Linked DNA regions of Homo sapiens: region 1 is linked to region 2. Evidence: fine-mapped expression QTL. A gene starts in region 2. The other region holds a variant in brackets. All regions are shown on one strand. Distances are from middle to middle. Region 1 overlaps IFT140 (intraflagellar transport 140). Region 2 holds the start of TELO2 (telomere maintenance 2).

The links. PIP is the estimated chance that this variant, and not a neighbour inherited with it, causes the effect.
Region 1: its variant is the best candidate, but not a certain one, in a credible set for the expression of TELO2 in sun-exposed skin (GTEx, PIP 0.61).

The regions. Positions count from the first base shown.
Region 1 is chr16:1,513,141-1,517,524 of GRCh38, forward strand. All of the region lies in intron 30 of IFT140 (intraflagellar transport 140), which reads right to left. Among named protein-coding and RNA genes, the nearest start is that of TMEM204, 18 kb to the right of the region's middle. The variant C/T (reference allele first, on the strand shown) is at 2,399.
Region 2 is chr16:1,491,070-1,495,419 of GRCh38, forward strand. It overlaps TELO2 (telomere maintenance 2), which reads left to right and starts at 2,291. Exons shown (of 21, transcript NM_016111.4): 1 at 2,291-2,536; 2 at 3,177-3,547; 3 at 4,277-4,350. The coding sequence starts at 3,213. RefSeq lists enhancers at 1,949-1,998, 2,096-2,996, 3,898-4,350 and silencers at 2,209-2,298, 2,469-2,518, 2,529-2,728.

The DNA.
Region 1 (4,384 bases), 22 kb after region 2:
GGGTCTGACGGATGCAGGCGCGTGCAATTCTCTATGTTGGCTACAACAGAATTATGGTTGAAAAAGAGGCCGGGCGCGGTGGCTCACGCCTGTAATCCCAGCACTTTGGGAGGCCGAGGTGGGCGGATCACGAGGTCAGGAGATCAAGACCATCCTGGCTAACACGGTGAAACCCCGTCTCTACTAAAAAATAAATAAATAAATACAAAAATTAGCTGGGCGTGGTGGCGGGAACCTGTAGTCCCAGCTACTTGGGAGGCTGAGGCAGGACAATTGCTTGAGCCCAGGAGGCGGAGGTTGCAGTGAGCCACGATCATGCCACTGCACTCCAGCTGGGCAACAGAGCAAGACTGTCTCAGAAAAGAAAAAAGAATGAGAAGAGAGGCTTCTGACAACAGCAGCACGACTCCTGTGAGAGCAGCCCTCCCCCTAATGACGACGGACACATGGAAAGGCACTGGGGGCAGCCGTGAGCAGGCTGATGCTGGGAGTGGGTGGCACTGGGCAGGCTTCCTGCTTCTCACAACTTTCTTTTTTTTTTTTTCTTTTTTGAGACGGAGTCTTGCTGTGTCGCCCAGGCTGGAGTGCAGTGGTGCGATCTCTGCTCACTGCAAGCTCCGCCTCCCGGGTTCACACCATTCTCCTGCCTCAGCCTCCCAAGTAGCTGGGACTACAGGCGCCCACCACCACACCCGGCTAATTTTTTGTATTTTTAGTAGAGACGGGGTTTCACCGTGTTAGCCAAGATGGTCTCCATCTCCTGACCTCATGATCTGCCCGCCTTGGCCTCCCAAAGTGCTGGGATTACAGGCGTGAGCCACTGCACCCGGCTGCTTCTCACAACTTTCTGCCTCAGGGTAGGCCCAAGTCAGGGCCAGTGTGGGCATCAGCCACCTCGAAGCCTGCCCTCTTCCAGGCTTAAAGAATCAGAATCAAGATTTTTGTTGGCCAGGTGCGGTACCTCACGCCTGTAATCCCAGCACTTTGGGAGGCCAAGGTGGGTGGATCACGAGGTCAGGAGATCGAGACCATCCTGGCTAACACGGTGAAACCCCGTCTCTACTAAAAATGCAAAAAAAATTAACTGGGCGTGGTGGCGGGCGCCTGTAGTCCCAGCTACTCGGGAGGCTGCAGCAGGAGAATGGCATGAACCAGGGAGGCGGAGCTTGCAGTGAGCCGAGATCACGCCACTGCACTCCAGCCTGGGCGATAGAGCGACACTCCATCTCAAATAAATAAATAAATAAATAAATAAAAGATTTTTGTTGACCACAGCAGCTGGAATGTGAAGGTGGAAACGTTGGGATGCAGCAGGCATAGAGGGGATCCCAAATCCTGAGCATATGCTGCCCTCGTCACTAGTTGCTCCCACACTACACATGAGGCAGGGGAGGTGCAGACTTTAAGCCAACTCACGCTACAAGCAGGGATTTCAGCTGCTATCCACCACAGGGGAAAGAGTTTCGGCTCTGAGCTGAGCAAAGGTGATTGCCTAATAAAATGAACCAAAAAAAAGCAATACTCTTTGGAGGAATGTAACAGAATCCAGAGTCTCTACAATGGATTATCCACAATGTCCATGATACAAAAAAATGACTAGACATAAGAAACAGGAAAATTTGACCCATACTCAAAAGGCAAGTAATGGAGATCAATCCTACATGACCCAGATATTGGAACCGGTAGCTAAGATTTTACAGCAGCAGTTACAACTCTGCTTTAGGATATAAATATAAAATATATTTTAAACAAATTAACAAATAGGGAATTTTAGCCAATAAATAATAAAAAGAACTAAGTGTAAATTCTAGGGCTGCAAAATACAAGCTCTAAAAAGATTGCTGGAGAGGTTAACAGCAGATTGAAGATAGCTAAAGAAAGTCTAGATAAATACAAATTAATCCAAAGGACAGAAAAAAAGAAAATAATGAGCAGTAATCACAAATGTGTGTCTACTAGATATGGAAGACCTAACATTTAATTGGAGTCCCAGAAGGAGAAAAAGAGCAAATTTCCCAAATTTGGCAAAACACAAATATAGATCCCAAAAGCCCAGGATAAATACAATGAAAACACCTAGGAACATCATTATCGCACTGCTGAAACACAAATTCAAGAAGAAAGTCATGACAGCAGCCAGTGCAGTGGGAGATGGAGAGACACATGACATGTAAGGGCCCCACAGACAGCCCATAGCTGACTCTTCCAGAAACAATGGAGGCCCAGACAGGGAAAACATTCAAGTGCTGAAAGGAAAAAAATCTGTCAAATCAGGATTTTTTTTGAATCAGGATCTTGCTTTGTCACCCAGGCTGGAGTGCAGTGGTGCTATCACAGCTCACTGCAGACTCAACCTCCTGGGCTCAAGCAGTCCTCCCACCTCAGCCTCCCAAGCAGC[C/T]AAGACTGCAGGTGCATGCCACCATGCCTTGCTATTTTTTTCAGAGATGGGGTCTCACTTGTTACCCAGGCTGGACTTGAACTCCTGGCCTCAAGAAATCCTCCCACCTTGGCCTCCCAAAGTGCTGAGATTACAGGCATGAGCCACTGTGCCTGGCCTCAGAATTCTCTATCTGATGAGAACAACCTTGAAGAATACAGGCAAAATAAATACATTTCAGATTAACGAAAAGTAAGAAAATTCATCATCAGGAGATCTGAACTAGAAGAAATGTTAAAGGGAGCTCAGGCTGAAGAGGAGTGATACCACATGCAAATCGGAATCATAGGGAAGAAGTAAGAACACCAGAAATGACGCTTTGGGAGGCCGAGGCAGGCAGATCACCTGAGGTTGGGAGTTTGAGACCAGCCTGACCAACATGGAGAAACCCCATCTCCCCTAAAAATACAAAATTAGCCAGGCGTGGTGGCGCATGCCTGTAATCCCAGCTACTCCGGAGGCTGAGGCAGGAGAATCACTTGAACCTGGAGGGTAGAGGTTGTGGTGAGCTGAGGTTTGTTGCCCACTCCAGCCTGGGCTACAAAGAGCAAAACTCTGTCTCAAAAAAAAAAAAAAAAAAAAAAAAAAAAAAAAAAAAAAACACCAGAAATGGATGGTAAATATGTAGGTAAATGTAAAAGACTATTTCTTTCCTTTTAATTTCTTCAAAATACATATGACTGTTGAAAGCAACAATTATAACACTATACTGTGTTTATAATACATGTACATGTTACACATACGACAAATACAGGTGGGGACACGGGTGGGAAATGGACCTACCTGCTAACTCTAGTGTGGTAAGTATGTTTATGGTAATCTCCAGGGCAAACACTAGAAATACAATGCAAAGAGGAGTAGAGATAAAAAGCTGATAGCTAAAATGAAATTATAAAAAATAGTCCACTAAGGCCAGGTGCGGTGGCTCACGCCTGTAATCCCAGCACTTTGGGAGGCCGAGGCGGGCGGATCATGAGGTCAGGAGATCGAGACCATCCTGGCTAACACGGTGAAACCCTGTCTCTACTAAAAATACAAAAAAATTATCTGGGCGTGGTGGCGGGCGCCTGTAGTCCCAGCTACTCGGGAGGCTGAGGTAGGAGAATGGCGTGAACCCGGGAGGCAGAGCTTGCAGTGAGCCGAGATTGCACCACCGCACTCCAGCCTGGGCGACAGAGCGACACTCTGTCTCAAAAAAAAAAAAAAAAAAAAATCAACTAAAAAGAAGGCAGGAAAAAAGGTTTAAAGTAACAATAATAAAAACTGGTAGAAAAAGTTGACTGGTAGAAAACTGACATGAAAAAGATGGATGGGATTACCATCAGAGTGAGACACTGCAGAAGGAAAGCTGGTAAACTTGAAGCAACAGAAATGGCAAATCCCTAAAATGAAAAACAGAAAAAGTCCTTGGGGGAGAAAAGAAGAGCATCAGTTGAGCTAGGGGATGGTACTGTATATACAAGTCATTGGAATTTCAGAAGCAGAGGAAAAAAGGAATAGAAGGGAACTTCGGCCAGGCGCGGTGGCTCACGCCTGTAATCCCAGCACTTTGGGAGGTGGAGGCGGGTGGATCACTTGAGGTCACGAGTTCAAGACCAGCCTGGCCAAATGGTGAAACCCCATCTCTACAGGCATGCTGATGCACACCTGTAGTCCCAGCTACTTGGGAGGCTGAGGCAGGAGAATGGCGTGAACCCAGGAGGCGGAGCTTGCAGTGAGCCGAGATCGCGCCACTGCGCTCCAGCCTGGGCAACAGAGTGAGACTCCGTCTCCAAAAAAAAAAAAAAAAAGTACAATAATAAGAAAACCCAATAAAATGATGAGAAGAGACTTGAAGCCTTCACAGAAGGTGTGTAAATGGATAATAAGCACATGAGAAGGAGCTGCACATCACTACTCATCCAGAAAATGTGAATTTAAACCTCAGCAAGGTACTGTTCACCCCCT
Region 2 (4,350 bases):
TCCCAGCTACTTGGAAGGCTAAGGCGGGAGGATCGCCTGAGCCGGGGAGAAGGAGGTTGCAGTGAGCTGAAATCGCGCCACTACACTCCAGCCTGGGTGACAGAGCAAAGAATAAAGACATTTTCAGACACACAAAGGCTTGAGAAATTTGTCCTCCAAGCACCCACTGTTGGATGCGGGGCTTCAGGAAAAGAAGGGAATAGGGAAGGACGGAGCTGCCGTGGGCACTGGCGAGGGCTGGAACCCAGCAGCGGACGGAGGAGGAGTTTCCGGGATGATGGGATGCTGCCTGCCCCATATCCCATCCATCAGCTCTGCCTGCAGAGACATGCCCTGAGTTCAGCTGCTTCTCTACACCCCCATTCCGCCCCAAGCTCATCCTCACAATGGCCACCTAGTCCCCTCGTCCGTGTCGCCCCCCTACCGTCTGCTCTCCTAACTGCACCAGCATGGACCCGTGCCTTCAATGGCTCCAGGAGATGCCTGCCACACAAGCAAAATCTTAGTCCCTGCGAGGGCCTTCTGTGGCCTGGCCCACTGCCTCACTCCCTCCAGGCCTCACCCCTGCATATGCCTCCCTCGGCTCCACCTCCCGGGCAACAGTTGCGGCCTCAGGCCTTTGCACCTGCCGTTTTCCTGCCAGTGAGACTCTTCCCTGGCTGTCAACACATTCAGGGCTCTGCTCTAAGGTGTTCTGTTCAGAGCTCTCACCTTACGTAAGACAGCACCCACTGCTCTCTGGCTCTTTTCTTTTTTTTTTTTTTTGGAGGAGTCTCGCTCTGTCACCCAGGCTGGAGTTCAATGGCACAATCTCCACTCATTGCAACCTCTGCCTCCTGGGTTCAAGCAATTCTCCTGCCTCAGCCTCCCAAGTAGCTGGGATCACAGACACATGCCACCACGCCCAACTAATTTTTGTATTACTATTATTATTATTATTATTCTTTTTTTAGGAGAGACGGGGTTTCACCATGTTGGCCAGGCTGGTCTCGAACTCCTGAGCTTGTGACCCACCCGTCTCGGCCTCCCTAAGTGCTGGGATTAGAGGTGTGAACCACTGTGCCCGGCCACTGGCTCTTATTTTCTTACCCTACCGGTTTTTTATTTTGATTCCTTTTTTTTTTTTGAAACAGGGTCTTGCTCTGTTGTCCAGGCTGGAGTGCAGTGGCAGTGAACATGGCTCACTGCAGCCTCAACCTCCCGGGCTCAAGCCATCCTCCCACCTCAGCCTCCTGAGTAGCTGGGATCACAGGCTCATGACACCGTGCCTGGCTAATTTTTAAATTTTTTGTAGAGACAGGGTCTCACTATTTTTCCCATTCTTGAACTTCTGGGTGCAAACGATTCTCCCACCTCAGCTTCCCAGTGCTGGAATTACCGGCGTGAGCCACCGGGCCCGGCCTCTGCCAGTTTTTCTGCTCGAGGCCTGTCACCTGGCATATTTCGTATGTACTTTATCTGTTCCCCCGATAGGTGAGCAGGAACTTTGCATCATTTGTTGCTCAGAAGGCTTGGTGCACCAAGCAGGCATTTAATCAATGTTTGTTGAATGGATAACTGTTCCCCAGCTTTTCCCACATCCATCACTGCTGAAATGGCGCCTCTTTAGGTGTCTTCCTGGATTGCCCCCTCCACAAAGATGAAGCCCCCCACACTCCGCTGCGGTGTACAGAAGGCACTGCATGTTGTAAATGTTCAGTGTCCGGCTGTCCAGCCTGGCGGCCACAGCCAAAGGTAGTACCGAGCCCTTGAGATGGGGCTAGTGCTGCAAGGGAACTGGACTTATTTAACTTCAGTTAATTTACAGAGCCACATGCGTCTAGCGCTTACCCTACTGGTCGCAGTTTTTATTCCACGACCCGGCCTCATTTACGGAGCTGCAATTGTTCAGATCTGACATGATCTCAACTGCTCTTTTACTTCCTTGTGTACCGTGCGTTTCCCTTACTGGCCTCTGACCCTTGAAAGCAGAGCCTTACATCCGGGGAAGACGAGCCAGGCCTGTCTTGGTAAACATCTGCCTTAGAGCGAACGCTCGGCGTTCTGGAGAGAATGTGGGACCCGAGGCGGAGGGAAGAGACGGCTGACATCACTCCAGGGTAGGGACGACCGAGATGGGAGAAACTAAGGCGAGAACCCACCACCCGGGCGCAGCGAACCCAGCTCGCAGCCACGTGGGGAAGCGCGGCCCTGCCCTCAGGCCCCGCCCCACTCACGCGTCAGGCCCCGCCCACCCCACCGCCCCCCGCTCCCGCGTCCAGGCTCCGCCCCGTCCCCGCGCAGCGCAGGCGCAGATGCGCCCTCCCGCCTGGCGTCCTCCGCAGATTCGCGCTGAGAGGCCCGCGGAGACCCGCCCCAGAGGCTCAAGAAAACCCGCGGGAGCCTCGCCCGGACCCAGGAACTCGTGCTCGGGGCCAACCGGCTGGGCCGCGATCGCGTTTCGTCCGGGGCCGCGGCGGCCGTGGGGAATCGGCTGCAGCGAATCGGTGGCGCGCGGCGCCTGAGCGCGCTGCAGTCACCCGGGAGCCGGGTCCAGGTCGGGTTGGGGGTCGGGGATCGGGGATCGGGGGTCCGGTTGGGTCGGGTTGGGCTCCAGGTCTGGTTGGGTCGGGTCCAGGTCGGGTAGGAGTCCGGTCGGGGTCCGGGTACAGGTCGGGGTCCGGGCCTGGATCGGGGGCGGGTCCGCGTGCGGCTCCTCTAGCCCCGAACCCGTGTTCCCCGTAAGCTGTTGGTTTCTAAGGGGCGGAGGAATGGCGACTGGAGCCACCTCTCACCGCTCAGGGAGCCGGGAGGGCCGGCAGCTCCCGCGGGCCGAGTTTCCCGCCTTGGGTGCGAGGACGCGTGGGGCCGCGCTGTGCCCGGGGAACACTCACCAGCATCTCTAGCCTCCACCTCCCTCTCGCGCCAGTGGCACTCCCGGTTGAGACAACTGAGAATGTTCCCTGGGCACAGTGGCCCGGGTTGAGAAGCCCTGCAGTGGCTGGTAGCGTTGGGGTCCGAGCGGAGGAGCGAACTCTGGGTGGAAACCGGCAGGCACTGGAGGGGAAGGAGGCGGGACAGGGTTGGGTGGGACCAGGGTTGAGGGGTGTGGGGTCTCGGGGCGCTCACCGAGGGGCTTCCTGAGCTTGTGTGGATTATTTCCGTGCCCCAAGCTGAGCCCTGTGTCCATGTCACAGGTCGTCTTCCCGTGACGCCCAGATCTGTCCTGCAGGATGGAGCCAGCACCCTCAGAGGTTCGACTCGCCGTCCGGGAAGCCATTCATGCCCTCTCGTCTTCGGAGGATGGCGGCCACATCTTCTGCACCCTGGAGTCCCTGAAGCGGTATCTCGGTGAGATGGAGCCTCCAGCGCTCCCGAGGGAGAAGGAGGAGTTTGCCTCGGCCCACTTCTCGCCTGTCCTCAGATGTCTTGCCAGCAGGCTGAGCCCAGCCTGGCTGGAGCTGCTGCCCCATGGCCGCCTGGAGGAGCTGTGGGCCAGCTTCTTCCTGGAGGGCCCGGCGGACCAAGCCTTCCTGGTGTTGATGGAGACCATCGAGGGTGCTGCGGGGTGAGTGGGCTGGGCCCATCCTGGGGTTGCCGGTAGCCTCAGAAGTGATGAGAGTGGCTTGAAGGACTGGACCAAGAGCCTCTCTAGTCCCTGTGAGGGGCTAGAGAGAGAGCCTGCTCCTGGCTGAACCCCTGAACAGAAGAAGCGGTCTGTGTCTGTCTCCTTTGCGACGGGAGGCACCTGCTGTGTCTCACAAAGTCCCCCACTTGCTCCCCGTCCGGCTGTGTCAGAGAGGGATGGGGTGGGAGTGTTCACATCCCAGGCGGCAGAGGCAGCCCGTCAGCTGGGGACGTTCCAGGTTTTCCAGGGAAGCACAGCTGTCATCACTGACACGTGTCCCATGTGGACTCCCAGCCCCAGCCGGCTCCCAGGCTCAGCCTCAGATCACACTGCAGTCCTTGCCGGGACACTGCATCTTGAGAAGCTGGGTTTTCAGAGGTTGCTGTGATCAAAGCAAGCACTGAGTTATCCGCGTCAGCAGCAGGGGAGGGGTGTCCAGTGAGACTCCAGGTTGGGGAAGCCGCTCAGGGCCCCGAGAGCTCTCACACAGTAATCGCAGTTATTTAGGAATGGATTAACAGATTTTCCCATCCGGCTTGTGGTTTTGGACTTCACGCTGGTTATGTTGTTGGGGCTGCCCGTGTAATCCGGGCTGCTGGTTCCTTGTGGCAGGAAGGGGGCCCCGAGGATGGGGGTTGGCGGCTCTGCCCAACACGCCCGTATCTTCAGCCCCAGCTTCCGGCTGATGAAGATGGCGCGGCTGCTGGCCAGATTCCTGCGCGAGGGCCGGCTGGCAGTGCTGA